6 separate regions of the Homo sapiens genome follow, and all the other regions are linked to region 6. The links come from fine-mapping of genetic effects on gene expression. A gene starts in region 6. Each other region holds a variant in brackets. All regions are shown on one strand. Distances are between the middles of the regions.

Region 1 (5,189 bases), 29 kb after region 6:
GCATAATACTTCTGTAGTTAATGAGAAAACCAAAACTCAAATTCAAACTTCCAGTTAAGGGTGACATTTAAAAGTCACATTTGGCTCCTCCACATCACAAAACTTCATGATACAGCACTAGAGGATGTTTTTAAAGGCACAAGCACAACTAGATGGAAAGAACATGAGGGGAGAAAGCATTCTGGATGCAGGAAAACAGATGAGGGAGAGGCTGCTGATTTATTTAGCTGATCCAAGACAGCTAAATCCCAAACCAGCACAAAGGAGAGCATGGAAGCTGTCTGGTTTGCAAAACAAAACCCCTCAAAGACTTGGGGCTTGGCAGGACTAGATATCTCTGGAAATGAGGGCAAAAAAGGAGCTCAGGACAGGAGCACTGGGTGAAGGTTAACTTAAAAAAAAGCAGTTAGGGCCAGGCGCAGTGGCTCACGCCTCTAGTCCCAGCACTTTGGGAGGCCAAGGCAGGCAGATCATTTGAGGTCAGGAGTTCGAGACCAGCCTAGCCAACATGGTGAAACCCCGTTTCTACTAAAAATACAAAAATTAGCCGGGTGTGCTGGCACATGCCTGTAATCCCAGCTACTCGGGAGGCTGAGACAGGAGACTTGCTTGAACCTGGGAGGTAGAGGTTGAGACAAGATAAGCGCTACTGCACTTCAGCCTGGGCAGCAGAGCGAGACTCTGTCTCCAAAAAAAAAAAAAAAAAAAAAAAAAAAACCAAAAAAGAGCAGTTAGATCTCAGATTTTCTGAGCAATCCAGTGCCAAGAGGTGACTGCCCGCCCCGACTCAGCTGTAAGACTGGAGTTGTATGTATTCTCTGAGAATAAAAGGGAGCCCTTTATAATGGGGACTCTGGCCCTTTCTTGGTGGAATATCTTAGAGAACAGGAAGGTTGGGTGAACATCAGTGTGCAGACCAGTTCCTTAGGCCCCAGTCTCTATCCACATTTGGTTTCCAAGCCCCAGCAGTCAGGAGTAGCCCCCAGGAAGGAAACTGATGAATTTTCTCCAGTAAATTTCTCCAGAGGTTCTCCAGTAAAATGGCGGAGGTGGACCCTCCTGTGTATGCCCTCCCCATCCTCCGACGCCACCCAGTCAGCTCCATAGAGAACCATTCTCAAGTGGGAGTGATAGGCCTGGTTCAGCAGACATTTGAGGAAACACTCTCATTTGAGGAACCAAGACAAAAAGAGGAAGAAAACAAAAAGCAAGTTGCAGGCAGCAGATACTGTGCAGGGGGAAGAAAACTGTTATACAAAACTACTGTAATATCCTCAGAGAGAATCTCTAAATACGGAAGAGTCAGAGGAGGAACCGATCCCCAGAAGTCAGAAATAAGATATCATGAATAAAAAACTCCAAAGAAGGGTTGGATGAAAACTTGACACTTCTAGGAAGAAGAGGACAATAAGAGAGACAACCCAATGTCCGAATAGAAGGAGTTTTAGAAAAAGAGAAGAGAGAAATGAAGGAAAAAGAGTCTTTAGAGAAATGCTTGAAATAAACTCCCCAGGATGGGAGTATAAACACTAAATACTAACTGAGATAACCAAAATTACCATGGAGATTTGGGAAGGTGTGTGGTTGGGTGGCGGTGGGTGGCGGTGTGGGGAGGGATGGGTGAGTGGAGAAGGGGCAGAAAGCAAAATCTCACTGCCCATGCTAGGAATTCCACAGACAATGACTAAAATGTAAAATCAAAAAGGAGTAACATAAGCATACTAATTAGAAATAAATATCTTAAAAAAAGGAGAAAGATAGAAAAGAAACCTCATCTGAGACCATAGAACGTGGTGACAGATTCAGGCAATGGCAGGGGAAGAATTTGCTGCCTCATGATAAGCCGTGTAGAACTCTTGATTCTTCAAACTATGTGCAAGTGTAAACTTTCATTGTAAAAAAAAAGTGAAATAAGATGGAAATAATTTATTTTTGAGATTTTGAGCATACAAATAAGACAAGTCAGAGCCATGGGGCAGGGATGTGAGGCAGGGGAGTGAGTTGGTAACAGGGTCAGCTTGCATTTTTTCTGTGTTATTGTAATTTCTCA[C/T]GTTGAGACTATCTTCATGTAAGTCCATATTTTAAAGTATTTTAAAAATTTAAACAAGAAAAGAAAAACTATAACCAAAAAACGGAATGCAGCAGGGCCACAGTGCTAGAGGTTCTTTGGATGACCAGGAGGAGAATGGGGAGGCCAGGCCAGGGGCTCCCTCTTCTAGAAAGGGCCACTGAGCCCCACGCTGGCCTCTGAAGAGGCCCTGGCATATTGGAGGTTCTTGGAAGATGTGTTTAGAATGAACCTAGGAATGTGTGGGAGGTCCATGGATGCTATGTGTCTGGCAGTCCACACCCAGTGGGGAGCCCATAGTCTCTGACGTAGGGCATAGGATGCTCATCCTACAGGCAGGAACACAAAATGCAGATGTGGGACTAGAGGACTCCTGTAAAGGGGCTTCACTGCCACACCCAGGATCTAGGTCCTCACTTCGTGGGCTGCGATAGGGGTCAGTGAAGGTTGTGGGTTGCTTATACTTGGCCATCAGAGCCCCAAGAGGAGAGTCATCCTGCAGCAGCACAGATAGGGGCTGACCAGGACCAGGCTGGAAGCAGAAAGGCCACTTAGATGGGGCTGGTGTTCTAATATCAGCTGAGGCCAAGAAAATCCTCACCATGCTGGAACAAGGGCTGGGGGCCTTGGAAGAAGCAGGGGAGGGAACATGGCAGGTGGAGTTTGGAATCCACACTTCCCCCTCCCACCTACCTGCCATGGCTGATGCAACATTATGTTCTAGAAGAGGCAATTTAAAAATCACTTTGAGAGCAGGCTAGGTTTCTGTTGTATGTTTTATTTTTTTTCCAGGAGAATAAGTGAGGGAAGCTCAGCAATAAGGAGCCATAGAAGATTGATTTAAAGTTTGATGTGATTGAGTAAAAGCTTGAGACTGGTGGGGAGAAAGTCAAGATGGATGGGAAAGCACATGCACTTCTAGGAGTGGAACATTAATATTGGACAGTCGGAAACCAGAAATCTTTAAGAAAGAGGAAACCTCAGGGGAAGAAAGAGAGGCCATCCTATCCCATAACTTGAAAGTCACAGGAATATTTCAGCCTGCAGGGAATCTTCATTTCCCACCCCATTGTTTACCAAACTTGCACGTCAAAAACAAAAACAAAAAATAAAATGTTGCTTTCATGAACTCTGTTACTCCATTCTCCCATTGCTATAAAGAAATACCTGAGACTGGATAATTTTTTTTTAAAGAGGTTTAATTGGCTCATTGTTCTGCATGCTGTACAGGAAGCATGATGCTGACCTCTGCTCAGCTTCTGGAGATGCCTCAGGAAACTTAGAATCATGGCGGAAGGCAAAGAGGGAGCAGTCATGTCACATGGCCAGAGCAGGAGCAAAAGAGAGAGCAGGGAGGTGCCACACACACTTTTAAACCACCAGATTTCGTGAGAATTCACTCTATTTTGAGGACAGCACCAAGAAGATGGTGCTAACCACTCAAGAGAAACCGCCCCCATGATCCAAATACCTTCCGCCAGGCCCCACCTCCAACACTGGGGATTACAATTAAACATGAGATTTGGATGGAGACACAGAGCCAAACCATATCACGCTCCTTCCCTGAGTCCTTGACCTGGAGTAGATGCCTGGGTTGTCTCCATTTCTCAAATGAGGAAACTGAAGGACTGACATCAGGCCAAGACTAACAGGTACTCACTCTCAGATAGCGCCTGAAAGCTGACACAAGTTCAGTGAGACTGCTAGGACAACCCCCTGCCGTGCCATTAATGTCTGCCCACAAAAACCTCACACCTTTGGCTGGCTCTATCTTCCATGGCCCTCATCTCAGCACCACCTGGGGGTACGATGAAGATGCCATCAGGTGTCGGAGCTCATCTTGTGCTCACAGCTCACAGGACCGCCCCTGTGTCAGATGCCCTTCACTTCTGGACCTCATAACCTCCACCCAGCTCAAGTTGACTTAGCAAGCCCTAACTGTGCATCCTTCATAAGCTGTAAATTGTTACTCAAACCAGCCAAGAGGATGTCACTGCTATTATTATTGCATTACTGTTTTGATATTGCTGTTGTTATTTATAACACTTCCTCAATTTAATTTCTGTTCTCCATTCTATATCATAAACCTCATTCAGGTGGGGCTTCAATCTGTCTTATTATTTCTCTTTTCCTATCACCTAGCGGTACTTGACACATAATTGGTATCCAGTAATATTGGGTGCTTACTTGAATAATTGAATGAATGAATGAATAAATGAGAAAAATAAATGGAATGAATGAGTGCATAGTGTGACCCATATTTGTATTAGATCCTCAATGGAAAAATAATTTATTGCTTTTGTAAAGTGCCTGAGAATTGGCAAAGAGCTTATTGACTGCCTTCCCTATCAGACTGTAAGCCCAACAAGGTGAGGTTTTTGTCTATCTTGTTTATCTCTGTGTCTCAGTATCCAGAACAATGTCTGACACATAGTAGAAGCTCAATAAACACTTGTTCAATAAACATTCACACAGCATCTCCACAAGGCCAGGCACAATCAATTTCCACTGTACTGGTAGAGAATGTGGGGCTCAAAAAGGTAGAATGAAAGCTTGCATACTATAATGGAAAAAACCATAATATTTGGAACCAGAATACCTGGCTTCAAGTCCCATTTATACCACCTACTAGCTATAGATTTGGGAAGATCATTGAAGCCCTCTTGTTCCTACTTTTGGTGTGGTCCTTTGAGGCTGTGGCTTCACTAAGCATTGGACAAATGGAAGTTGCTGTGGTTGATAGTGTTGTCAATGCTGCCTAAACACTCAGAGATAAGACTATTACAATTCTTAGAATGGGTTCTGAAATGAAAGACCTTCAAGAAGCATGCGAAGGCATCTAATATGAATTATAAAAAGGAAGTTGCAGATCTAGAAAACAATGATTGCCTGAACATGCAGAGCTCCCTGAGACCAGCCCTTCAGATGGTCTTCACTCCCTTTCTTGATTAGGAGTCCAGACTCGTGGGTGGTAAGTCTGCCACGAATACCTGGTGTCTAAATTTTAGCATGTCATATTACAGGATCTTGCGTGATAGAGAAAAATGGCAGATTTCTCTTGAGTAACCAGGATGGTTCTAGCTGGTAACTAGAGAAGATATTTCACTCTCTGAGCCTCAGT
Region 2 (5,189 bases), 45 kb before region 6:
TAAATATATTTCTTTTCTATAGATGTGGATCTCCTGTTACTGGAAAACAGGAATTAGCTTGTCTGCTTGAGGATGTGGTTGGTTCTTTATAAAAAGGATACAGAAGAAATTTGCACAGACTGCCAGCTTCATTATGCTGCCGACAGCTTCCAGCAAAAGGAGGACGTTTGCAGCCAGATATTTCAGTAAGAATTTTTTTATGTTCTATGTGGGAAATGATTACCTTTGCATTTGACTTCTTGCTTGAGGGATGGGGTCCCCGGAGGCTGTCTTGGTCTTGTGGCTGAGAGCACCAGGCGGCATCTGTGGTCAGGGTTCTGACCTCCTTCAGCTCCTGGAAATGGCTGATGGCACAAACCCCACCCCTGAACTATGGCAGCTGCTCTGTGTCTGCCTGAAAAACAGAGACTTCAGGGTCCTGGGCTCTAATGACTCAGGGCTCTGATTGCATTCAGAGTCTGTAAGGACTCCTATGTCCAAGGACCGCTGGGGCAGTAGGCAAGTCCTTCACAGGGGAACGCTGTGTGCAGCTGAAGGCTACTCTGCATCTCTGCTTGGAAAGGATCCAGCCAAGGGGCTAGTAGAGAAATAGTGAGGACATCTCAGTAACCCTCACTAAAGTGTCTGGGAGGTAACTATTAGACCAAATGGGATGGCTGTGACTGTCTGTTTGGGTCCCTCAGTAAAGTGCCTGGGAGATAATTGTTAGACCAAGTGGGATGACTGTTTGTTTGGGTCACAGGCAGGTGCTCGCTGGGTGGGCTGTGCAGGTGAGGATTGGGTGGATTGTGCAGGTGATGGTTGGGTGGGCTGTGTAAGTGATGATTTGGATGGGTTGTACAGGTGCTGATTGGGTGGGTTGTGCAGGTGCTGGCTGGGTAGACTATGCAGGTGATGATTGGGTGGATTGTGCAGGTGCTGACTGGGTGAGCTGTGCAGGTGAGGATTCGGCTTGTTGTGCAGGTGCTGACTGGGTGGATTGTGCAGGTGCTGGCTGGGTGGACTATGCAGGTGATGATTGGATGGGTTGTGCAGGTGCTGGGCTGCATGGGCTGTGTAGGTGATGGTTGGCAGTTGCTAGTCAGGTCATATGCATGACCTGATGGGCTCAGTTATGAGATGATGTTGCCTGAGCCCCTCCAGGACTGGTAAAGATTGGAAATTCTAGAAGCTAGTGGGTGAAATGCAGTCATGGACCTCAACCTCCACATTAAAATCACCCAAGGTGCTTTTAAAAATTCCCAGGCTCCCCCTCCAGAGATGCAGGTTTAATTGGTCTTGGATGAATCCAAGATATCAGCATATTTTTAAAGTCCCAGGTGATGTGATGTAATGTAATATGCTACCAGGTTCAGGATATAGTGGACCAAGCCCAGGGTGGGCTCAGACTCCACAGAGCCCCTTTTCTGTGGTCTGAGTAGATATTCATGGGGTGAGGAGTAAAGCTCTGTGTTCATGAAGAACGGAGTGGGCTAGAAGCCAGGACCCCTGGGCCGGCCTCGTGCTGCAGACACTTCTCACACTGTCAACTTCCCTGGATCTCACTTTCCACAGGAGAAAATAGGGGGTGGGGGAGCAGCTGAGATTAACCTTTAACTGTTCAAGCCTAATACCTAATATCTCCAGGTATTATTTTCCCTGTGCTAGGTTTATTGCATTATCTGGCTTGGAAGGAACAGTCACTTGCTTTTGTAGGAGGTTCCAGCCACCAGATTTCTATGATGAAATAAATTCTTCCCCAGATTCATAGCATAGGTGCAAATCCTTTGAGAAAGGGACAGAGGACATACTGCATGACATACCTGAACTTAATGAATTTGATTGAATTAATGTCTTTATCAAGATGAAATGTATATAACATGAATTTAACCATTTTGAAGTGTAAAAGTCAGTGGCAATTCATACATTCATGATGTTGTGCAACCACCAGCTCCATTTAATTCCAAAATTTTTCCATCACCTTGTACCTATTAAGAGGTTGCTCCCTCTTCTCCACCCCATGCAAACATCAATCTGTGTTCTGCCTCCATGGATTTTCCAACTCTGGATTTGTCATGTAAATGGACTCATGCAATATGTATCCTTTTATGAAGCCTCGTGTCTGGCTTCTTTCACTTAGCATAATTTTTCCAAGTTTCATCCACATTCATTCCTTTTGAGACTGGATTAATTTGTAAATGATTACCTAATCTCAAACACTTTGACAACTCTAAAAATGGACTGGCAATGCCATTTCGTGAAAGGCTGCAGAAAAAAAAAAAAAAAAAAAAAAGAGTCTCCAGCACAGGGGGAGGGGGCTTCCCCTCCCCATCCTTGGTCTCTCGGTTAGCACCTCTGTGTGTTTATCTTTCTTCTCTCCACCTGCCACCTCCTGGTCTCTCTCTCTCTCTCCCTCTCTCTCTCTCTTTCTCTCTCTCTCCCTCCCTCCCTCCCTCCGTCTTTCTCAGCTAATGGAGATTATTGAGAAACTTAAGTTTGCTTTTAACTGTCATTTTCAAGGATTGAGGGCAAATGAAAGGTCCTTATGCGTTCAATTGTACTGCTATGCTTCATTTCTTCACTTTGTCCACAATCTTGCCACATCGAGAACCTACCAGCACTTTCCCTCCAGCAGGAGCTGGTGGTGAGCCTCTTGGCCTCTCACTTGGTGAGTTCTGTGCTAAAAGTCTCACCCAGCAGTGGGCAGCACCCTCAGCTCCATCACTGTGGGCCTCAGCTCCTCCTAGGGAACTCTCCTGCCAGCAGGACTAGCTGCAGCCTCTTTTCTCACCAGCTCCCAAACTTCAGACCACTGGTCTGCCTGGTTGTCTCCCAAGACTGCTGGCTTCTCCCTGTCTGACCCTCCTGGCACTCCCCATGCCAAGAAGCCACTGTGCCTCGGGATCACAGTGGAGAGAAAGACGGTGGCCTCTGCCCATACCCAGCCAGAGTGTCCAAAGAGAAGGAGAAGGCATCTCTGAATCCAACCACTCCTTCAAGTCCCCAAATCCCTGACCTGCACGCTGGGACCAAGGCTGGGAGCAGCCTGGGGTAGGGAGGCTCCTTCGAAACCCTCTCCCACGCCTCCCTGACTCTGTGGTTGTCCTCACCTTGGCCTTTCCCAGAGCAGACTCTCTCCCCCACTGCTGGCAGAGATGTAAGGGGATTGTGAGAACCCAGGTAGGGGGGCATGACTGTGTCCTGAGAGAATAGGGGACTTAGAGAGAGGGG[C/T]GCTGAAGCAGTTGGAATGGGGTAATAAGGGAGGAATGGTAGGTGGATGCCATATTCAGAAACTTGGACTTGTTCTCGTGAGGCATAGGGAGCTATTGATGGTTATAAGCACAGGACTGATCTGATGAGAATGTTCATAGGAATAATTGCATGGCAGCGGGGCGAGAGGTCGGCTCTCACCTGGATCTTTGCAAAGGATCCTCCCCATTGCTCTTCTTCTTCCCACCCTTGGCCCTTCCATCTCTCCATACTGCACAGAGCAAGACTCTTTCAACCTAAATCCAATCAGCACTGTCACATCCATGGGCATCCATGTTGCTCAACACATCCATATGGATGCCCAGGCCACTTACCTCTGTCGGCTGCCTGCCCTCCTCTGGCACCCGCCTTGCCCATCGTAGGATCTGCTGCCAAGCACCCCACGCTCCCCCACCCCGCTGCGCCTGCTCTGCACCAGCAGTGCCGGCCTCCCTGCTGCTCTGATGTTTGCATGATCTGCCCACTCTCCGGACCATTTTCCCCCCAGGACAGCTGCCTGGCCTACAGACTCACCTCTTTCAGACTTTTACCCAAAGCTTTTATTAAGGCTTTCTCTGACCACCTGTGTGAGTCTGAATGGGATGAGTTACACAACCACCGGGTCACCTGGGTGAGTTGAGGGGTGGATCCTGCCCTGTTAATCATAGTGACTTAAAGACCCAGGCTGATGCTGCCAGACCAGAGGCCCGAGAAACAGTGAGCTTGTGAATGGTCTCACGTCAGCAGTTAAATCCTCAGCCGGGAAGGGACACACATCACACTCTGCTCACAACTCTGTCCCACACTAATCACTGCCCCAATCAACTGCAAGGGGCCCAGGAAGTGCAGTCCCACCACATCCTGGGGGCCTGGAGATTTTAATGACTGCAGTAATTGAAACCCTGCCCTGCCTTCCCATACTCCTTTCCCATCTTTTTTTCTTCATGGCATTGGTTATTATCATATTCTATGTATTTCAACAGCCTTATTGATATGTAAGTTACATGCAATAAAATTCACCCATTCGAGGTTCACAGCTAAATTATTTTAACTACATTCATGGAGTTGTAAAACCATCATCACAATCCAGTTTTAGGGCATTTCCGGCACCTCAAAAAATTCCCTCAAGCCCATCTGCAACTAACCCTTCCTCCCAACCCCAACCTAAGGAAACCATTGATCTGCTTTTTGTCTTCATAAATGTGCCTTTTCTGGACATTTTCTATAAACGGAAGCATAAACTGTGTAGTGTTTTGCATTGGGCTTCTTTCATGTAGCATAACGTTTTGAGGGTCATTCATGTTCTCGTGTGAATCAGTGATCAGTGTGCTCCTTTGTAGCTGAGTAATACTCCCTTGTAGGGATGCACATTGTGTTTCTCCGCTCACCCGTTGATGGACTTTTGGGTTGTTTTTGGATTGGGATTATTACGAATGATGCTGTTATGAGCATTCACATGCATATGCTTCTGTGAACACACGGCTTTCATTTCTCTTGCTGGGTCGTATGGTAGGTTTATTTTTTAATTTTTAAGAAACTGTCAAAATGTTTTCTGAAATCTCTGTACCATTTTACATTCCCACCGTCATACAATCCCACCTCATACATAAGGGTCCCAATGTTTCCACATCCTCACCAACACTTGCTATTGTTTTATTATAGCTATCCTAGCGGGTGTAAAGTGGTATTTTATTGGGGATTTGATTTGCATTTGCTTAACCATTAATGATGTTGAATGTACTTTCCTGTGCTTATTAACTATTCATATGCCTTTTTATTTCCATTTTTATATTTTTTGATACTGAGTTTTGCTCTTGTCGCCCAGACTGGAGTGCAATGGCGTGATCTCGGCTCATTGCAACCTCTGCCTCCCGGTTCAAGCGATTCTCCTGCCTCAGCCTCCTGAGTAGCTGGGATTACAGGCACCCACCACCACGCACAGCTAGTTATTGTCTTTTTAG
Region 3 (5,189 bases), 74 kb after region 6:
ATTGCTCGTGAACATATACACCATGGAATACTATGCAGCCATAAAAAAGGATAAGTTCATGTCCTTTGTAGGGACATGGATGAAGCTGGAAACCATCATTCTCAGCAAACTATCACAAGGACAAAAAAACCAAACACTGCATGTTCTCACTCATAGGTGGGAATTGAACAAAGAGAACACTTGGACACAGGAAGGGGAACATCACACACTGGGGCCTGTCATGGGGTGGGGGGTTGGGGGAGGGATAGCATTAGGAGATATACCTAATGTAAATGAAGAGTTAATGGGTGCAGCACACCAACATGACACATGTATACATACGTAACAAACCTGCATGTTGTGCACATGTACCCTAGAACTTAAAGTATAATAAAAAAAGAAAAAAAATTGCTTGTGAAAAATGAGGAGGTTGTGTTAAAAGAGAACCTTCCAATTCCAATGTCTGTGGGTCTGTGTTATGTGGACATACAGTGTGTGTGCACACTGAATTTTAGCCAAACTCCTAATATAGATCAGAAATATGATGGGAGAAGGGGGTGGGGGCAGGGACGCAGGCCCAGATGAGACCCTCACCACCAAGAGGCAGAAGTCAGTGAGTGGTTGTTAAGAAGGTGACCAGCAGTGTTCAGACTGCCCAGATTGGAGGACAGGCTCTACCCTCTACCCACCAGCTGTGTGATCTTGAGAGCTCGCATAACCTGGGCGGGTGTCCATATCCTCACCTGTAGATTGGATCTGATGACATATCACCCTTACAGGCTATTGTGAAAATTAAACAAAATAATGCCCGTGAGTTACTAGTGCCAATCAAAGGTATGTTTTGTGATAAGCTGTCTACAAAGTGTCTACATCACGCCCTTCTTCAACAAGCTCCCTCTACCAGAGGCCAGGGCTGGCAGGAGACAGACATTATTCTGAAAAGCTAGGAGCAATAACCCGCGGTCTCAATCCAGCACTCCACAGGGCTTGTCTTTTTTAACTGGAAGTCTCAACTACAGTTATGTGTGCCTTTGTCCCACAGGCCATCTTATTCACCATCGAGTCCCATTCCTTTTCCCCAAAAAACATTTATCATAGAATTGTTAAGATCACAGGCTAGAAAGCAAGATGGGCTGGGTTCCAATCTGAGCTTAACCACTAATTAGCTGTTGTGACCTTGTGCAAATGACTTCACTTCTCTGTACTTCGGTGCCCTCACTTCTCTGTACTTCGGTGCCCTCCTCTTGCAAGTGGAAATAATGATGACATCGAATGCATAGGATTGCTCTGAATTCTAAGTGAACGTGCACATGTCAAGCTCTTAGCCTGGCACATTGTCAGGGCCAGGCAGTGCTAGCCATAAGGATTTTGCATCACTTCCTATGTTTCAGCTATCTGTAACTGCCTAACAGACTACTCCAAAGTTTAATGACTTAAAACAACACATATTTTCCTTTTTTAAAAAAATGTATTTCAATAGGTTTTGGGGGAACATGTGGTGTTTATTACATGAATAAGTCCTTTAGTGGTGATTTCTGAGATTTTGGTGCACCCATCACCTCAGCAGTGCAAATTGTACCCAATGTGTAGTCTTTTATCCCTCAGCCTCCTGCCACCCTTTCCCCCAATTCCCCAAAGTCCATTGTATCATTCTTATGCCTTTGCATCCCATAACTTAGCTCCCAATTATGAGTGAGAACATACGATGTTTGCTTTTCCATTCCTGAGTTACTTCACTTAGAATAATGGTCTCCAGTCCCATCTAAGTTGCTGCAAATGCCATTATTTCGTTCCTTTTTGTGGCTAAGAAGTATTCCATGGTATTTATATACTACATTTTCTTTATCCACTCTTTGATTTATGGGAATTTGGGCTGGTTCTATATTTTTGTAATAGCGAATTGCGCTGCTATAAACATGCGTGTGCAAGTATCTTTTTCATATAATGACTTACTTTCCTCTGGGTAGATAGCCAGTAGTGGGATTGTTGAATCAAATGGTAGTTTTACTTTTAGTTCTTTAAGGAATCCCCACACTGTTTTCCATAGTGGTTTTGTATTAGTTTCCATTCCCACCAGCAGTGTAGAGGTGTTTGCTTTTCACCACATCCACGCCAACATCTATTTTATTTTTATTTTTTTATTATGGCCATTCTTGTGAGAGTAAGGTGGTATCGCGTTGTGGTTTTGATTTGCATTTCCCTGATCATTAGTGATGTTGAGCATTTTTCTATATGCTTGTTGGCCATTTGTATATCTTCTTTTGAGAATTGTTTGTTCGTGTCCTTAGCCCATTTTTTGATGGGATTGTTTGTTTTCTTCTTGTTGATTTGTTTGAGTTCTTTTTAGATTCTGGATGTTAGTCCTTTGTCAGATGTAAAGATCACAAAGATTTTCTCCCACTCTGTGGGTTGTCTGTTTGCTCTGCTGATTGTTTCTTTTGCTATACAGAAGCATTTTAGTTTAATTAAGTCCCATCTATTTATCTTTGTTTTTGTTGCATTTGCTTTTGGGTTTTTGGTCATGAAGTCTTTGCCTAAGCCAATGTCTAAAAGGGTTTTTCCAATGTTATCTTCTAGAATTTTTACAGTTTCAGGTCTTAGGTTTAAGTCTTTGATCCATCTTGAGTTGATTTTTTTTTTTTTTTTTTTTTTTTTGCAATGGAGTCTCACTCTGCCTCCCAGGTTGGAGTGCAGTGGTGCAATCTTGGCTCACTGAAACCTCCGCCTCCTGGGTTCAAGCAATTCTCCTGCCTCAGCCTCCCAAGTAGCTGGGAATACAGATGACCACCACCATGCCTGGCTAATTTTTGTAT[A/G]TTTAGTAGAGATGCGGTTTCACCATGTTAGCAAAGCTGGTCTCGAACTCTTGACCTCAGATGATCTGCCCACGTTGGCCTCCCAAAGTGCTGGGATTACAGGCGTGAGCCACCGCGCCCAGCCAAGTTGATTTTTATATAAGTTGAGAGATGAGGATCCAGTTTCATTCTTCTATGTGTGGCTTACCAATTATCACAGCACCATTTGTTGAATAGGGTGTTCTTTCCCTACTTTTATGTTTTGTTTGTTTTGTTGAAGATCAATTGACTGTAAGTATTTGGCTTTATTTTTGGGTTCTCTATTCTGTTCCAATCGTCTATATGCCTATTTTTATACCAGTACCATGCTAAAAACAAAACACATTTTATTTGCTCACTGTTCTGCAGTGTGGCCATGGCTTGGTGGGGACAGCTTCTCTCTGCTCCACATGGTATCACTTGGAGAATCCACTTCCAGGACAGCCTCACTCACACAGCTGGAAGTCAGTGTGGTTGCTGGCTTGGACCTCAGTTCTCCATTTGGCCTCTCCACATTGCTAGGTTGGGGTTCTTGCAGCACAACAGTCTCAGGACAATTCCACTGTTTACAAGGGGGTGCTTTCCCTGACGACAGGGAAAAGCAGAAGCTGCCAAGTTTTCTTAGGACTTAGACCCAGAATTGGTCCAGAGTCACTTCTGCTACCTTCTGTCAATTAAAGCAGCTCATAGGGCAGCCTAGATTCGAGGGAGGGGATTACATAAGATGCAAGAACTGGAAGGTGTGGTTAGCTGGGGCCCCTGAGCTAACACATTGCCCTGCCTGGTCTCCAACTCCTCCAACCTGTGTTCGGCCCACATCTCTCACCTGGCTTATGCCTTTTGCATCTTTGCTTTTTCTCTGCTCCAGTCTCCCCCTTCCAGTCCCTATCTCGCTCTAGCCACCAGGCTAGCCAGTCAGAATCACAGGCTGCATCATGTCTTCTACCCTAAATGCCATGTTGTGACTCCCCTGACCCAAGTAAAGAGCAAGTTCTTAATGGGATACTACTGCACCCATTGGAGGACTGTGTTAGTCCATGCAAATTGCTATAAAGGAATACCTGAGACTGGGTCATTTATAAGGAAAAGAGGTTTATTTTGGCTCAAAGTTCTGCGGGCTGTACAAGCATAGCACTAACATCTGCTTGGCTTCTGGGGAGGCCTCAGGAAGTTTACAATCATGGCAGAAGGCAAATGGGAGCATATGTGTCCCATGGCAAGAAAGTAACAGACAGAGAGAGAGAGAGAGAAAAAGGAGGAGATCTCATACTCTTTTAAACAACCAGCCCTCATGTGAACTACCAGAGTGAGAACTCACTTATTGCCACAGGGATGGCACCAGGCCATTCATAAAGAATCAGCCCCATGACCCAAATACCTCCCACTAGGCCCACCTCCAACACTGGAGGTCATACTTCAACATGAGACTTGGAGGGGACACACGTCTACACCATATCAGGGACCATTCCTGTGCTGTCCCCTAAGGTGCTGGACCCCTCCTTGCAGCTCAGGTCCCACCTCAAAGCATTCTCCTCTGCAGAGTTTTCTTTACCACCCTCGGCAGACTGGCTTTCTGTCCCCTACAGCTCCCGGGGCAACCTCCTATCCCCCGCCCCACATTGGGCCTTGTGTCAGGCATTGAGCTGTGTTCAGTCATCATTTGTACATGAGTGAAGGAAAGAATGATCATTATAGGCTCCCTAAGCTATGCTTGTGGCTAAGATGGTACATTCCCATTTATTCCCTTCCTCTGAGCTACCCAGGGCTGAGCTCACACCTGAGATAGTGCTGTGAGGGTGCCTTGGATATTCTGGGGAGGAGCAATCCAGACTCCTGCATTGGAACTATGGAGGGCAGGTCCTGAGTCTCCTAAGAAAATCCTTGAATGACCTGGGGCATATCTGGGACCAGGGGCTCAGGCTGCACAGGCTTCAGGATCCCAGCAGCAGCAGCACCCCCTAGAAACAGCTTGACATTCTCACCACCCAACTGTGGGTCTCCCAGAGAAATGGAGTAAAGTGGCAGGAAGTAGAGCTCTGGATGAATGGGGCAGCCTCTATCCCATAGAAACTTTGTCCTCAAAGCTGGTGTCCAGCCTCCTCCCAGAGCCCATTGTGCCCACTGGATATCCACCCCCTGGTTCTATCTCTTCTGCCCTGTGCCTGGTGGTGGGCTGGAGGCTGGCCTTCCTGCTGGGAAACATGTCCTAGAGGCTCCCACCTCTGGCCCTTCTTCTGGAGCAAGGCGGCTTGAGCACAGCTAGAGCCTTGCAGCATATGTGATCCTGATGTTTTGGCTAAATTCTAGTTAGTTTGGGGTCATCATCAATTTGGGTGGCAGAGCTATGTTCAGAAAATTTGATTTTTCAGACAAATTCTA
Region 4 (5,189 bases), 150 kb after region 6:
TGTGAGGACTGACCAGGCGCAGCTGCATCCGGACCCCAGGCCTTCTGCGGGGTCTGTCTCTTGGCCGTGCTTCCTCCGGTGACCTACCCCCAGGCTCTATCAATGGCAAGATGGCACAGCAGCTCGGCTCCCCTCCTTTTGGGTTCTGGGGACAGGAGAGCGAGTCTCCTCCATCTGCTCTGGGGCCGGGGCCATGTCCATCCTACCCATCATGGGGGCTTACCCAGGCCCTGGATGCCCCTGGGTGGAGCCAACTATACCCCCAGCCTAGGGCCGTTTGGGGATTCTGTTTCCCCTGACAGTGCCCCCACCCATTATGGGGCAGTTTTTTCATAGAGTTCTCTCTACATCAGGAAAAACTACCCTCCATGGGGCTTATGCCCTGTCTTCTTGGATCTGCCCCAGGATGGGCCCACCAGGACCTGCAGGCAGCCCTGGCCTCCCAGGGCTTCTCCTCTGGGGGCAGAACACTCAGCCCCTCAGCTCTTTCCCAGGCCCGTCACTGCAGCCAGGGGAGGGTGTCAGCTCCTCTCCTTAGATGTGGAGTCCAGGACTGACCACTGTTCCCTAGCGGTGCTCCACCCAGGGAGGTACGGGGGACCCTTCCTCTGGAGCTTTGTGAAGCTCCATCCCAGTGTTGACGCTCAGTGAGCTTGTCGTCCATTCTGAACCTCAGCCAGCCAGGCCTCTTCCATCCTGTGTCTCAGCGTTAGGGTTGCAGATTGCTTCAAATAATGTCACCTGGGTAAGGCCTGGGAGCCGAGACTTTTGGAAGCTCCCCAGGATCAGATGCTCTGCCCTAGTGCCTGATGCTACCTGAGGGGCTTCTGCAGACACAGATCAGACCTTGCCACTCCCCTACTCAAACTCTGCTGGGGCTCCCTGGAGTGGCACAGGCCGTCTGCGCCTCACCCACACTGCCAAGCTTCTCCCATCCTGCTGGGGGGGTCTCCACCTGGGCACACCTGCTCTCCCAAGGTGTGGTTCCTGGCATGCTCAGCCTCCTTTCTCCACCTGGCCTGCCTGCTGAAGCCCCCTTGAGAGGCAGCTGGGCACCCTAGGGTGGGTTCCATGCAGACCTGACTCTCGGCCTCCCAGCAGCCTGGGGCAGCCTTCCCTATGTCTTGGAGGCCCTCCCCTGTCTGCCTTCTCCCTCTCTGGCTGCTTCTACCCTGCTTCTGGAATTGTGTCAGGAGGGCCATCTCCATGGTGGGCATGTTGGCCTTGTCCCTCCACCCCCATCTCAGCAGTGACCCCCATACTGCCACGGTGGCCCTGGGCTTTGGTTTCCTCTCCCTTTAGAAACTCCTCCTGGGGTATCTGAGGCCATCCTTCCCACTTTCTGCCATTTCCATGGCAGCTCCTCTGGCTCTGCAGCTGTACCCACAGAGGGGCCCTCCCCACCCACCCCTGAGGGAGGCCCCCCTTCCCACCCAACCCCAACAGAAGGTCCCCCCTCCCTACCCACCCCCAACAGAGGGTCTCCTCCTCACCCACTTCCAACAGAGGGTCCCGGGATGGAGCTCTCTCCCCAAGGCCATAGCCTGCCTGCCTGCTGGGGTGTTGGCTTCTGTCCTGGCCCCTTCCGCAGGAAGCCCCCTCCTCACTTTCCTGCTCATCTCTATAAGAAGGTCCCCTTTAGCCCCAGGTCCTGGGCTTCTCTTCTGCTAAAGCCTCACCAGGCCTGGAAGCCTCAGTGCCTGGAGCTGTCCCATACTTGCCCCTTCCCAGCACAGTGTCCCCTGGGCACTGGGCTGTC[A/G]GTCTCCCGGGTTGCCACCCTGCTGCTGAGCTCTGAGGACAGCCTCCTGTGGGCCGGAGCCTAGGGCTGCATGGACTCCTGGCCGCCAGGCTCTCCTTACTCCCTCAGCTGCTATCCTTTGAGGGAGGGAGCACTGGGAGGCCTAGGGGTGGAGGGGCACCCACATGCATTAGAAATTCTAAGGGGGGTGGGTCTTGACAGATAACAAGTAAACACCAGGGACACCAGTCCCGGGCCTAGTGGTAGGGAACCTCCCAGGGTGCTGCAGATGGCAGGGCTGGGCTGCTCAGGGAGGAGCCCTGCGGACACCCAGGTGGGGTGAAGCAGGCGGCCCGGCTGGGGGGCAGGTCGAGGAAGTGGGGATGGGTGATGAGAAACGGACTCTAGGGGAGTGAGGCGAGTCAGGACCAGGCTGGAGGCATGGCGTGTTCTGCATAGATGCCGGTGTTGGCGTGGGCGGGGGGTTCCCTGGGTACAGAGAGGTGACGAGGAACCTGCAGATGGAGGGTCACCTTGCTGCGGGCTGCACTGACCACCAGGGCCTCTTTGTCCCCAGGGCAGGCACCTCGTCCCCTGACCAGCTGCTGCCCTTTCTGCCCCACCCCTGCCCCCACCCTCCGCCTGCGCTAATGTCGCCGCATGCTGGGAGGCCCACAGGCTGGGGAGGCGCCCACAGGACCACGGGCTGTACAGAGTTCTCCTTGGGTGCTTGTTGGAGGGGGGAAGGGGACAGCAGTTTAGGGAAAAGTCTCAAGAAAAGGCCTGGTGACAGCTGTTGGAGGAAAGGCACTGCAGTGGGGAAGGAGGGAGGGAGGGAGGGAGGGACGAGGAAAGGAAGTAAGAGCTCAGGTACTGAGCGGATAGGGGGTCAGGCAGGGCCAAGCAGCAGGACCCTGCGGGGCAGGGATGCAGCCGGGCAGGTCTGCAGAGGAGGGGTGGCTCTGTGTCCACTCACCCAGGGCAGAAATGCTCCCATCCCCCCAGCTGCAGAAAAGGGGAAGACATACGGGCTGGCTGCCAACCACACTTCCCTGCCTCCTGCCCTTCCCCCAGTCTCTTGCGCTCCACTCAGGCTGCCACTGAAGCCACGGGCTCCCAGTGGGGAAGGGGCCGCTGGGCTCAAGCCTGGGTACCCAGGGCAGTTGGCCAGGAACATGGCCCGGGAGAAGGCCGAGGAGGGTGTGATAGCAGCATGCCTGGCTGGAGATGGAAGGAGGGTGGGATGGGGGCTGCCTGGATCCAGCCAGACCAAGAGTCACTGAGCCTCAGGCAAGGAGGGGCCCCAGGTATATGGATTTGGGGTGCATATGGATACATGGAACCCCAGAATCCCAAATGTCAGGGCCAGAAGGTATTTATCTCAGTGAGCCTAGCCTGGGATTCATCCGGGATCAGGTGATAGCATAATGGCACAGCCACAGTCTCCTGGCCCCGTCTCATCTTTCCTGAGGGAAATGCAGCCCAGGGTTTAAGTCCATGGTTCTAGACAAGCAGATGAACAACCTGGGGCCCATATACGGCTTGGAACGCAAGCTCGGAGGAGATGCCAAGGCTCTCGTTTAGGACCTGAACTGCAGACCCCACACAGGACCCAGGGAAGGACTATGCCAGGCCCATTGCCACCACCATCCACAACTGGTCTACTTCTGCCTTGGCAGCTCCGAGCCAGAGCGGGAGACTGAGGCCTGGAGTGGACTCCTGGGGCACTGGAGAGGGGGTGATGAGCTTAGAAGCCTAGGTGTCACCACTGTGGACAGGAAGAGAGGAAAGGGCCTGACCTCCGACCTGCTCCTGCTGTTGGTCCCCGGATACCTGCTCCCCAACAAGGAGCCAGCAGCCCTGCATTGTGGGCGCCTTTGATGCAGCTCCTCCCACTCCAGCCAAAGTCAAGTGCAGTGGAGAGGGCAAGCTCGGGCTGGGGGTTGGCAGCACCTATGGAGGGCCTGCAGGATAGCTGTTCCTACCGCAGAGCAGGCAGCTCCCACATCGTCTTGCAGGGGACCTTGGGATGGCCACCAGGCCTGTGGAAGGGGCTCCCTGGCCCATGTCCCAGGGCCCTCCCCTGTGCAACCTGACCTGCATCACACTTGATTCCTCTGGCCCAGGGCAGCTGCTAGGGTGGAGCAGCTGTGCCCTGCAGGGCCCTGTGGCTTCACAGTTCCTGGAGTCCTACGCAGTCTACGCAGGACAGGTTCTGGACGGACTGACACAGACATGAGACTCAGGGATTCTGAGCAGGTGCCTAGGCATGATGGGTGGTCCCTGAGCTGGAGCTCCTGGCCATGGATACTTAGTCGTCCCTGCCCCAGCTCTATCCACTGCTCCCAGAAGCAGCACTGGCCTTTCCTTGACCAGGGCAGCTGGCCGCAGATGCAGCCCCCAGTGCGCCCAAGAATGCACCTGAGACCAGAGGCTGCCCCTTGGCGTCAGGGCGTACCAGTCACCCCTGAAGTCCCCTGGCATCCCAGGCCTCACACACCTGTCCTCTTCCCCCCCACAGCACAACAGACGTGCACACGGTGGCCTCCCTGCTGAAGCTGTACCTGCGGGAGCTCCCCGAGCCCGTGGTCCCCTTCGCCAGGTACGAGGACTTCCTCAGCTGCGCCCAGCTGCTCACCAAGGACGAGGGGGAGGTCAGTGGCTCCTGGGGATAGCTCCTGGGAGATGGGCTGGCTGGGTGGCAGCCTGTAGACTCAGGACACAGACTCTGACTTTTCATGAATTTTCATGGCACATGGATCCTGTGGAGGCCTGCTGTGTTGGGGGTGTGGTGGGGGCCTGGAGCATCCTGCTTGGGTGGGGGAGGGGCCAGGGCATCCTGCTCAGGTCGGGGAGGGCTGGGGAATCCTGCTGTCTGGAGCCATACCTGTCTGCGGCCTTGGTCCCTGGGAGGGGTGGGTCCGGTGTGCCCAGCTCTGGCTGTCACACCAGTAGGTGCTCACACTCCCCACACCCGACTCAGGCCACTCAGGCCCGTCACAGGCTCAGAAACCAGGACATCTTTTATTTATATCTTGCTTCCTTCCCAAAAGAATTTGAGCTGGCTCCCAGGACAGATGAGCCAGCCCTCCCGTCCCCACCCGTGCAGGTGCTGGTCTGCAGCCCCAGGTGGCTCAGGGCCAGGGAAGGACTGTTTGCCTTCCCTGCGGCCATGTGGGAGATGAGGGCTCACTATCTGGCAAATATTTGTGTCTTGATAAGTGAGCTGAGTGCTGGCCCTGACATTCCTCCACGGGCCCTGTAGAGGCTCACCCCTCACACCAGCTCCTTGGAAGCAAGTTAGCTTCCCAGGAGGTCACAGCTGGGCCCTGGCCACTCCTTGAGGGGAGGTGGAGGTGGTGGAGCCCTCTGGTCTGTTGGGGCTGGGCTGCCGTAGCCCCCACCTCCCTTCTCTTTGCCCACCCCTCCTCGCAGTCAGAGAACAGTCAGG
Region 5 (5,189 bases), 30 kb before region 6:
TCCCAGCACTCTGGGTTTTGCATGCCACTCAAGGTCTGGGCTTTGCCTGCCCACTTCGTGGCCTCTTTGTGGTGACCTCAGGTGAGAACTCCTCACTGGTCTCCCACTGTCCTACTAGCGATGACTATAGCCATGGGTCTTGAGCTGGTACTGTTTGCCAGCAGTCATGGCTCTAAAGCTTGGACACACATAACACGTGTAAAGATATATCCCCTCCTCTCTAGGAGATCGTGGTCTGCAAAAGGGCAGGGCTGTGGTGCAGGTGGTACAAGGAGCAGCAAGAAACAGGAGGACCCCGATGCAACCCATGGATTCAGGGCAGGGTCTCAGAGCAGGGAGAATCCCTGTTGGCTCTTGGAGCCTGGGCAGGAGCAGCCCAGTGGGCAGACTCAAGCAGACATTCCTGGAAGAGGACCAGGGCCATACCACAAGCTCTAAGGCCTCCATCCTGCTCACCCCAGTCTCCCTGCACAAGCACCAAGCATGGGACACAGGCACACAGACAGCATGGATGCAGGGCTGGGCTGGAAAGACCCAGACACCCTGAATGTCTCCTTCATGCAGTGTCCCCACAGCTAACATGCCTTTATCGACAGCCACCAGAGAAATGCTGAAGCTGTGCAGGGCAGAGGAAGAAGGAGCAGCCATGTCATTAACCCCTTAACCCCCAAGCCTCTCCAGGATGTTCACCTGCACCTGGCAGCACAGGACCCCTGGGAAATGAGTCTGAAGATGGAGATTTTCCTTCTTCTTTCTTTAATGAAAAGAGAGAGAGAGTAAGGACCTGATGCTACCACCAAACTAAAAATAATAATAAATAACAACATTGAGATCACCTTGCACGGTTTACAACTCTCTTCAATATCCACAGGGGTGATGTCATTTAATTCCTGTAGCCAGCTTGCAAGATATTAATGTTCCCATTTTACAGAGGAGAAAACTGAAGCTCAAAAGTGCAGTCCTTCCATCCTGCTTCCCCAGCCAGGAAGTAGTCTAAGTTTATGTTGTCCAATAGCAGAGCCTAAGACAAGGGCTTGGGTGCAGGTGGTTTATTTGGGAGGTGATGCCAGGAAGCAGGACTGATGGGGCAAAGAGTGACACCAGGAAGGAGGGAAGGCCAGTGTGAGGGGCATAATGAAGGTTGCTGCTGTCCCAAGACTCACTTCCACAGGGACTCTGGGAAGAGTGCAGACTCACCTGCCATAAGCCTGGAAGGGGAGAGGGTGGGGGTTACCCGGCCCCCTTTCTCCCTTGGCTGAGGGCAACCCCAGGGGTGTGGACACCCAGCCCTTCTGGACTGCATTTGTTTGCCCAGGGCTTAGGGTCCCTGTGGCTTCAGAGAAAGCCGAGGGCTGAGAGCCTGGAGCGGGAAGCCATCAGTGGGCTCACCTAAGAGGGGACGTTTCACCACAGCTGTGGCTGAACTTGGAGCTGGCCAAGGGGCTGGGACAAGTTACGGAGCACCCAAAGCTGTGCTTCAAGCTATAACCTAAACCCCAGGCATTTTTCTCTTACCAACCTTGGAGGAGTATGAAACTAGTCATGCCTGAGGAGACAGGGAGTCGGGGTCCAGGGAAACACCAGGCCCAGTGCAGAAGTGGGGGTGGGGGCAACAAGAGACAGAGGCCCAGAAACAAGGTGAAGTGCTTCATTCACGGTGGACCCAGAAGGAGCCTAGCCTCCAAGAGCCTCCCATGGGTGCTGGAATTCCCTTGTTCACACTGAGGAAGAGGGAGGGCAGGTACATGAGTCTGCTCGGGCTGCCATGACAAAGCACCTCGGGCCCCAGGGCTTTCACAACATACATGTATTTTTTCCCATTCTGGAGGCTGGAAGTCTAAGATCAATGTGTTAGCAAGCTTCTTTCTCCTCTCTCCTTGGCTTGTAAATATCACCTTCTTCCTGTGTCTTCACACAGTTGGTATCTGTGTCCTTATCTCCTCTGCTTATAAGAACTCTAGTCATATTGGACTAGGGCCCACCCTAATGACCTCATTTTAACTTAATCACTCATTTTAACTTTGATATTTAAAGGCCCTATCTCCAAATACAGCCACTTTCTGTATGGGGCGGTGGGGGTTAGGCTTCATCATGAACTGGAGTCGGGGGACACAATTCAGCCCTCTTGCTTTCCTGGGCTCAGAGCTGTCAGCCCTGAGAAGCAGAGGAGAGTCTATTCCAAAGAACAGGCTGGGCAGAGCCTCAGAGAGTGTCTA[G/A]ACAGATGCCCTGCCAGCCACACTACCCTCTAGGGAGCCAAGCGGAAGCCCAGGCTCACCCACCCCCAGCCACAGAACCAAATAAGGGCTGAGTCAGCGGCTCTTCTTAGAGACCCAGTTTCCTACAATGGTTTCTGTTTCTGCACATCTGGGAGAAATGATTTGACTCTGGGAATGGTTGTGAAATGGGCAAACCACAGTGCAGGCTCACCGCCCTCTGCACCCAGCAGCTTATCCTCTCCTATGGCCCAGCTCTGTGGGGGCAGAGCACTTTTCCCTGTTGGCTAGATGAGGAAGCAGAAGATCTGAAGTTTACTGACTTGCCAAAAGCTCACAGCTAGTTAGTGGCAGACAGGACTCAACCCAGATCTGAGCTGACCCATCTTTAGTGCTCACTCACAGCAGTACCTCTGCTTTTAGGGACATTGATGGCACCTTTTGGCTGCTCCCATCAAATCCGCCACCCAAATCTGAAAGTACCCATTCAGCTACCCATGATACTACTGAGCTACTAGTGCAAACTGGCTTCTCTCAACAGGTGAGCTGGCTAGCAGATAACACTTCCTGCCAGTTATCATAGAAACAAGCGTGGGAGGAAGCAGCATCCTGGTGGCCAGGAAGAAGGTGAGGGAGAACATAGGGCATAGATGCCCATGGTGTCAACTCTCAGACACCTGCCCCAGAGATTTCCAGGAGTCAGGGCATCCCGCAGCCAGCTTGGCCCAGCATTCAGTTAGGAAAGGCTCTCCCTCCTCCCATGCCCAGCCCTCTGCTCCCTCCTCCTCTTAGCCCCGTGGAATGATCCTGTCTCTATTAACCTGCCCATCTCCTTCTGCAGATGGATGTCAACAGGGATTTTCTTGTGGAAAGTCCACAGGGAAAGCCAGCCCTCCCTCCCTGCTGCTGGCATCATTTTCCCACAAAATGTAAAAACAGTCTAGAGAAAGCCAGGCCTGGGTGTGGATCCAGGTTCTACCACCTGCTTACTCTATGCCCTTACTCAAGTGATATAATCTCTCTGCTTCATTTCCTCATTGTAAAAGTGAGACCACAATAGGCCATATCTCACAAGACTGTAATAAGGATTACATGTCTAATTAAAAGAAAAGAGTTCAAGGAAAGGCACAGGGTAAACCCTGAATAAGTGGGAACTCCCTTCCAGACAAACAATCAGATGCCACTGTTAATCTCTGGCTGAGAATTGTTTCCTTTGGGAATTTTTTGAAAACCAAGTGATATGATGGAGACTCTGGACACAGGAACCCTACATTTGGAGCTTTCTCCCAGTTTTACTTCTCCAGCATGCAGTCACTGCAAACCTCAGACCTGGGAGTCTCAGAGGAAGGTAGATTGTCTGCAGAAATGAGAGCTGACTGGGGCCATTAAAGGTGGACAGGCCTGGGAAATGATCTCAAAAGTTTCCTAAGGGTTGATAATTTATTCAGTCACCCAGCAAACATGAGTTGTGCCAGGCACTGCTCTAGGCACTGGAATACAGCAGGCAACATAATTGGCAAAAACTCTTACCTTCTGGAGCTCATGCTCTTCTCATATCATCCAATGGAAAGGCCTGAGGGAACTGTCCACTGATGTCCTCCGTGTGGCAGGTGATGTCCTCTGGCAGGTGACTCAGGATCTTCCAGGGGTAGATGAAGGAAAAGAATAGTCAGCGTTGTGCAGTAGTGATGAAAATGGAAAGACTCTGGCTTCTGGTTTCATCTTTGACATGTGAAAAGCTTAGACATTTTCACTCTCATCCTTACAACAAGGTAAAATCTGTGCAAACTTAAAATCAATGATTTCGCTCTGGCATCTGCAGACACAGCAAATATTAAAGACGGCACAGCTCCTAGCCTGGGTGGTTTTGGGAACACCCCCCAATTTGCAGTTGGTGTTGGAAGTGAGGCTGGTCTTGTGAAGACCTGTGTGCACTCTAAACTTGGAGTTGGCCAACTCCAGGCAGTGACAGAAAACAAACCACAGACCTAAGCAGGATAAAAACAAAAAATATACACATCTTAGGTGTCTCACATTCAAAATGCAGAAAACAAAAGACAGAGAAAATCTTGAAAGAAGCCAGGGGTATGGGGATCACCTTTCCTTTAGAAGAACAAGGATAGGAATTATATCAGACTTCACAACAGAAGTCATGCAAGCAAGTGGAGAGTGAAGGGAAATATTTCAACTGTTGAAAAAAAAATATGTTGAATAGTTTGTACATTAAAACTGCTGCAATAAAACTCCCTACCAACATAGGATTGCATAACTACTGGAATTTTTCTTCAAAAGTGAAGGCTAATAGAAAGGAATGAAATAATGTCTTTTGCAGCAACTTGGATGGAGCTGGAGGCCATTATTCTAAGTGAAGTAACTCAGGAATGGAAAAGCAAATATCATATGTTCTCACTTGTAAGTGGGAGCTAAGTTATGAGGATGCAAAGGCGTAAGAATTATATAATGGACTTTGAGGACTCGTGGGGAAGGTTGGGAGGAGGTTGAGGGACCAAAGACTACATATTGGGTACAGTGTACACTGCTCGAGTGACAGGTGCACTGAAATCTCAGAATTCCCCACTATAGAATTCATCCATGTAACCAAAACCACCTGTACCCCAAAAGTATTGAAATAGAAAAATAATTTTCATTGTAAAAAAAAGTGAGACTAAATAAAGACTTTCCCAGACAAACAAAAACCAAGAGTATTCATTGCTTGTCCTACAAGAAATGTTAAAAGAGAGAAAGAAAATGATGGGTGAGAAACTCAGATCTACATAAAGAAAGAGCATCAGAGAAGGAATAAATGAAAGTAAAACAAAGTCTTCATTTTTCTCATGCTTAATGGATCTAACAGGTAACTGTTTGTCCAAGTAACAATAGCAACAATATGTAGGGTGATTATAACACGTAGATAACCAAAGTGAATGTCAGTAATATTATAAGGAACAGGATGGAGGAACTGGGAATACTGATATA
Region 6 (5,189 bases):
AAACAAGCGTGAGTGGACCCAGACTAAGTCTCAGGGCATTTCCTTGCCTCTGACTTGGATGAAGTGGTCCAGGCTGCATTACTCACAAATGGCTTCCTGATTGCTCAAGACATTGTCACAAGCCACAGGACTTGCCCTGTGACCCTGGTGTCGACATGAGATTTTCTAGCTTGATATTCTCCCCACTCCTCATGGGTGGCCCCTGTCCCAACCAGGGCTTGTACCTGGCCTTAAAGGAAAAGGAGGTCAGTTCTGTCATTCAGTGGTGTTTCTTGGATCTGCCCATGAAGCCAGAGTTTCCTGTGAGGCTTCTGGCCTGAGTCAGCCTGGGGCTCAGGGAGGGCGTACAAGAGGGGCAGTACAGGGACATAGATAAGGGCCCAGGGGAAGTGCTTAGTGGCTCATTCTGCTGGTGGAATCAGGAGAATTTCATTGGGGAATTGCCCAAAGAGGACAAGGCAATGTGAGGAAGGGCATTCCAGAGAGAGGGAACTGCACGTGCAAAGACACAGCTACATGTGCAAAAACACAGAGGCACAGGAGAGCAGGGGCTGCACATGCAAGAACAGGAACACACAGGAGCAAGGCATGTGCAAAGTCACTGGGGCACACAGGAGCAGGCGCTGTATGTGCATATGGTTGTATAGAGCATCGGCAAGAGATAGGTCAGAGAGGAGTCCATGGATGCTACCATGAAAGAACCTGGAATGTTATGCCAAGGTACTCATTCATCCCTCTGAGGAGTAGCTGAAGACCAGAACAAGTGACTTGATGCTGAGTAAGACAGCTTTGTGTCCATGGACTCTACCTTCTCCCACCAGCTTGGCCATGTGGCTCACCACATCCTGGTGAGTCTTTCTTCTTACTCTGCAGTCCTCCCCTCTCCATAGGGCACACTGTTCCCTAGGGAGGACTGCCACAGTGATCTCCTGGTGGGCTCTCTCCCTCTACAGCTGCTAAAGTTGATTACATACCAATAGGACACTTGGGGATCTGTGGACATGGGGCACTCGAGGGAGTGTGGAGGGTCAGATGGAGGCTATGGCCATCTGAGCAGGGGAGGGCATTGTTCAAATCCCTCTTTACCAGCTACTGAAAGGGTCACACAGTTCTCAGGCCCAAATAGCCAGACCCAAGCTCAGATGCCTAAGAGGATACACGGAGTGATTATCAGGGGCACAGAGGCAGGTCACCGTTCAGCAAGTTCATCGGGGGCTCAAGCCAGGAGCTGTTACCATGCAGTGATGGGAATAGGGTGGAGAGGCTGGCATCACAGAGCAGCAGGAGCTGTAGACACAGCCCTGGGTTCTGGTGCCCGCCCTGCTGCTCGGTACTGTATGACTTTGGGCAGGTGATTCAACCTTGCTGTGCCTTATTTTCCAGATTTGAAACGCTATATATATAGCACCTGCTTCAGGAGTTTGAGAGTTAAATGAGATATTGAATGTAAAGCACCAGCCTCAGTGCCTGACACATAGTAGGTGCCTAATAAATGATAGCTATTGTTATGATTGCATTCCTTGGGTAATTTTTAGCATCTTGAGGCTGGATTCCGCTCCTCACAAAGCCCCAGTATACACCCTTTAAAATTATGCCAGCATCAAACAGAAACATGGCAATTAGCAGAGATTCACTATTCAATTCAGATCTTCCTATGAAGAGCCCTGAGTTAAGTGCTTCCTGCCCTCTTATTCCTGTCACCTTACTAAAGAGGCATAAATAGTATCCCTAACAGGCATCTTCCTGTTGGGAGTCTCCTGAGGAGTTTACATTGCCGGGCTGCTTGCTCCTTCCCAGACACACCTGACTTTCAACACGTAAAACAGTGAGCTCATAAGCGGGTCCCCGTGGATTGGGCTCTGGGGTGGGGGGGGGGTCTCGGCTACCTTCTCACCAAAGCGCTATCCCACCCGGGCTTGGCAGGGAGTGCGGCTCCCAGGCGGCGGCTGAAAGGCGCATTTCTTCCAGCCTCAGCAAAGGATGGCCGGAACCCCAGTACCCTCTCCCGGGCCAGGACCGCGCCCCGCGTCTCTGGCTGGCCCCGCCCCTCTCGGCCCCGCCCCGCCCCCGCGCTCAGCTTGGACAGCCACGCGTGCGCCCAGGCCAGGCGGAGGGACTGCCCCGCCCTGGTCCAGTGATTGATCAGCAGTGATTACTGAGGCTTTAATGGTCCGCTTGGATGGGAATTAATTCTGGGATGGATAAATAATGCATCGAGGTTTATGTAGTCCAAGGCGAGCCGTCCGTCCGGAGCCAGGAGAGGTAGCCGAGGGAGCCTGACGGGTGACGCCAGCGGCCACGGGGCCCCGAACGAGCAGGACATGAGGGGCGACTAGGCGCGAGGACGAGCAAAAGCAAGTGGATGACAGCATGAACGGCCCTGCGGGGCTGGCCGGACGGCTGCAAGAACATGCTGAGCCCAAAGATCAGGCAGGCCAGGAGGGGTAAGTCCAACTTTCTGGGGTTTCTCTGGGCACCGCATGTGCCTCTTGGCAAACGTGCGCGGACACTTGGCCAGCCGTCACGCCATGTGTCACATGGGGCGGGCGTTCTGGGACCATTGCCGCTGAATAGTGAGCATCCTCCTGAGGAAGTGCCCTTCCTCGTGAAACTCCTGGGCTGGGTGGGGACACGACCTGAAGTTGCAAAAGGGCGGTGGCCGGCTTAGTGCCCCAGTGGGTGTGCACACTTCGCCCCACATTCCACATTTTACAGAGGCCCTCGGTCGCTCCAGGTGACCTGGTGGCAACTTTAAGGAAACTTTGCTTCTTTACTAAAAAGGAAATGCCCAAGATTTGCCCTGTGGCCAACACAGAAGCACCCCTTACCAGGGAAGGCCATGCCCTGGCTTCTAGAGACAGCTGGGTGCAAGCGAGGGTCTTCGTTCCCGCTGCTTTGCAGACAGTATTTCCTCAAGCAGGCCAGGGGCAGGCAGGCTTTCCTGCCAGAACACTCAGAAAGCTGCAGGGTCTGGGGGCAGGACGGGTGGATGCGGGAGCAGACTCAGACCAGCAAGAGATGGGGGTCAGGAGAGTCCAGGACTGGGCTAGCCAGCCTGTGTCCAGCCAGCGACCCAGCACAGTGACCTGAAGACTTGGCCACTGTATGGGGCTAGAGACAGCATCTCCATGGACAACAACTTCTTAGCCACGGAAAGTGTCATTTTGAATGAGAACATCTGTCTTTTACAAAAATAGAATGTGTCTTTTCAGGTGGCCAGTATCTGGGAGGGCTGAGCTCCTTTTGTAAACAATGAAGTGGAGGATGGGTCTTTGGAGGTGGATGGAGCATTTGCCTGGGAGCTTGGAAACAGTTTGTGTCTCACCAGGTGTTTGCAGCGGGGGGCCTCCAGCCTCCTGTGGATTCACAGGGAACACACCCATCTTATTAGCACACTGCAAGCACTTGGATGATTTTCCTGGATGGGACCAGCCTTCCAGTGTGTTCCACAGACGTCAGGACCCCTCTGTGGGGTGCTTTCGCATGGGCTGAACCCTGTGTACCCCAATGGGCAAAGGAGGAACTTGCATGGCTCTGCTGAGGAGGGGGCAAGTCTAGTGATGACCCAAGGGATAGGACAAGCCAGATACCTCTGCGAGAGCTTAGTTCCACCCTCCCACTCCTGTGTAATGAGCTGGCCACTGGCCACATGTGGCTACTAAGCACTTGGCATGTCACTAGTCCAAATTGAGAAAAAGACACACCAAATTTTGATGATTTAGTACAAAAAAAGAATGTACAATATCTCATTAATAATTATTTTACTGAAATGACAGTATTTTGGATATATTGGGTTAAATAAAATCTATTATTAAAACTAATTTTACCTGTTTTACATTCTTTTACTATAGCTACTAGAACATTTACAAGTACATATGTGACTCATATTATATTTTTTATATTTCTATTGGACAGTGCTAGTAAGAGACCAGTGCTTCAGCAAAGGGGCTTACAGGCAGCCTGTCTTTGAAATCCAGGATTTCTCATAAATGTTTGTTTTAAGTCAATGGTTCTCAACCAGGAGCAATTTGCCCCACTAGAGAACATTTGGCATTGTTTGGAGTATTTTTGGTTATTCCAACTGAGGGGTGCTACTGGCATCTAGTGCGTATAGGCCAGCCATACAGCCCTCTTCCAGTCCTCAGTGTTCCATGAGGCTTCCACCATAGGGCTTTTGCACATCGTTCTTTCCCCTGAAATGCCTCCCACATTCACATGTGCGCACATGCATGCCTGTATGTGTGTGCACATGCGTTCATGCATACAAACATACACACACACCTTAATTCCTATTCACCCTCCAGTTATAGTATAGTTCAAGTGTTGCCAGCCAGGGAAGTCTTCCCACACACCCCAGTCCAGGCTGGATCCTCTGCTCCATCTCTCCTTTTCTTTATGGTATTTACCATAGGTTGCAGTTGTATACTCCTGAGTGTGACTGATTGGTGAATATCTGTCACTTGCATTGCTCCATGAGCTTCGTGAAAGCAGGAACCATTTCTGTTCGGGGACATCATTATACCCCCAATGCCAGGTACCTGGTGGACACTCAACCTGTGTTTTTTGAGTGAGTGGATGAATAGCTGGATAGAGGAGAAAGCATTTGCCTGGGTGGCTGGAGCACTGTCTCTACCCAAGCTGGCCCGGTACTTAGGAAATTTGGCCTCATCTTTCACTGACTCATATGTTGCAAATATTTTCCCAATTTGTTGCTTGCCCTTTATTTTTATATTAGAGTGGGTTTTTTTTCTAGATGTACCTGTTTTTAACTCGTATATATTTTCCTTTTAGAATTTCTGTCTTTGTTTGCAATATTTCAAAATAAAATTGTTGATGCTATTAAGGAGGCTCCTTCTTTTAAAGGAAATCATCAGACTGATGGGCCAAGTTATAGGAGCTTTAACCATCTCCTGTAGCAGGAGTGTCAATGTCTCAGGAGCCTTGATGAATGTTCAGAGCCTGGTCAATACTTTGGGGGTGGGGAGAGAAAGCTCTATTAATATGATGAAGTACCTTCAATGGCCTTATTCTTGTGATTGTCCCACAAGAAAGTAAACCAACATTTATTGTGCACCCATGCTCCAGGCACTTTTGTTGTACCTCATTTAATTCTCATGACTACACTATAATGTGATATCATTGTTACCATTTTGACAGATGTAGAAGAATCATGGTCGCCCAGCCAATAA

Alleles and levels. Alleles are on the strand shown, and positions count from the first base shown. SD is a standard deviation of normalised expression in the study named. Not every link is listed here.
For the expression in testis of the gene that starts at base 2,134 in region 6, allele G in region 4 goes with a higher level than allele A (small effect, 0.29 SD a copy in GTEx).

Evidence for each region. PIP is the estimated chance that this variant, and not a neighbour inherited with it, causes the effect.
Region 1: its variant is fine-mapped to the expression of ARHGAP22 in whole blood (INTERVAL, PIP above 0.99).
Region 2: its variant is fine-mapped to the expression of ARHGAP22 in whole blood (TOPMed, PIP above 0.99).
Region 3: its variant is fine-mapped to the expression of ARHGAP22 in whole blood (INTERVAL, PIP 0.98).
Region 4: its variant is fine-mapped to the expression of ARHGAP22 in testis (GTEx, PIP 0.93).
Region 5: its variant is fine-mapped to the expression of ARHGAP22 in whole blood (TOPMed, PIP above 0.99). The same link has a PIP of 0.9 or more in blood mononuclear cells.

Annotation. Positions count from the first base shown.
Region 1 is chr10:48,573,330-48,578,518 of GRCh38, reverse strand. The region is part of intron 2 of ARHGAP22 (Rho GTPase activating protein 22); the gene reads left to right. Among named protein-coding and RNA genes, the nearest start is that of ARHGAP22, 29 kb to the left of the region's middle. RefSeq lists enhancers at 1,070-1,119, 3,490-3,991. The variant C/T (reference allele first, on the strand shown) is at 2,051.
Region 2 is chr10:48,647,230-48,652,418 of GRCh38, reverse strand. It overlaps a transcript of ARHGAP22 not described here. Among named protein-coding and RNA genes, the nearest start is that of WDFY4, 35 kb to the left of the region's middle. The variant C/T (reference allele first, on the strand shown) is at 3,211.
Region 3 is chr10:48,527,682-48,532,870 of GRCh38, reverse strand. The region is part of intron 3 of ARHGAP22 (Rho GTPase activating protein 22); the gene reads left to right. Among named protein-coding and RNA genes, the nearest start is that of ARHGAP22-IT1, 19 kb to the right of the region's middle. The variant A/G (reference allele first, on the strand shown) is at 2,793.
Region 4 is chr10:48,454,205-48,459,393 of GRCh38, reverse strand. ARHGAP22 (Rho GTPase activating protein 22) reads left to right here. Exons shown (of 10, transcript NM_021226.4): 6 at 4,260-4,392. Among named protein-coding and RNA genes, the nearest start is that of ARHGAP22-IT1, 55 kb to the left of the region's middle. RefSeq lists an enhancer at 4,373-5,189. The variant A/G (reference allele first, on the strand shown) is at 1,760.
Region 5 is chr10:48,631,638-48,636,826 of GRCh38, reverse strand. It overlaps a transcript of ARHGAP22 not described here. Among named protein-coding and RNA genes, the nearest start is that of ARHGAP22, 29 kb to the right of the region's middle. The variant G/A (reference allele first, on the strand shown) is at 2,217.
Region 6 is chr10:48,602,018-48,607,206 of GRCh38, reverse strand. ARHGAP22 (Rho GTPase activating protein 22) reads left to right here and starts at 2,134. Exons shown (of 10, transcript NM_021226.4): 1 at 2,134-2,444. The coding sequence starts at 2,411. RefSeq lists a silencer at 1,967-2,126 and an enhancer at 1,983-2,713.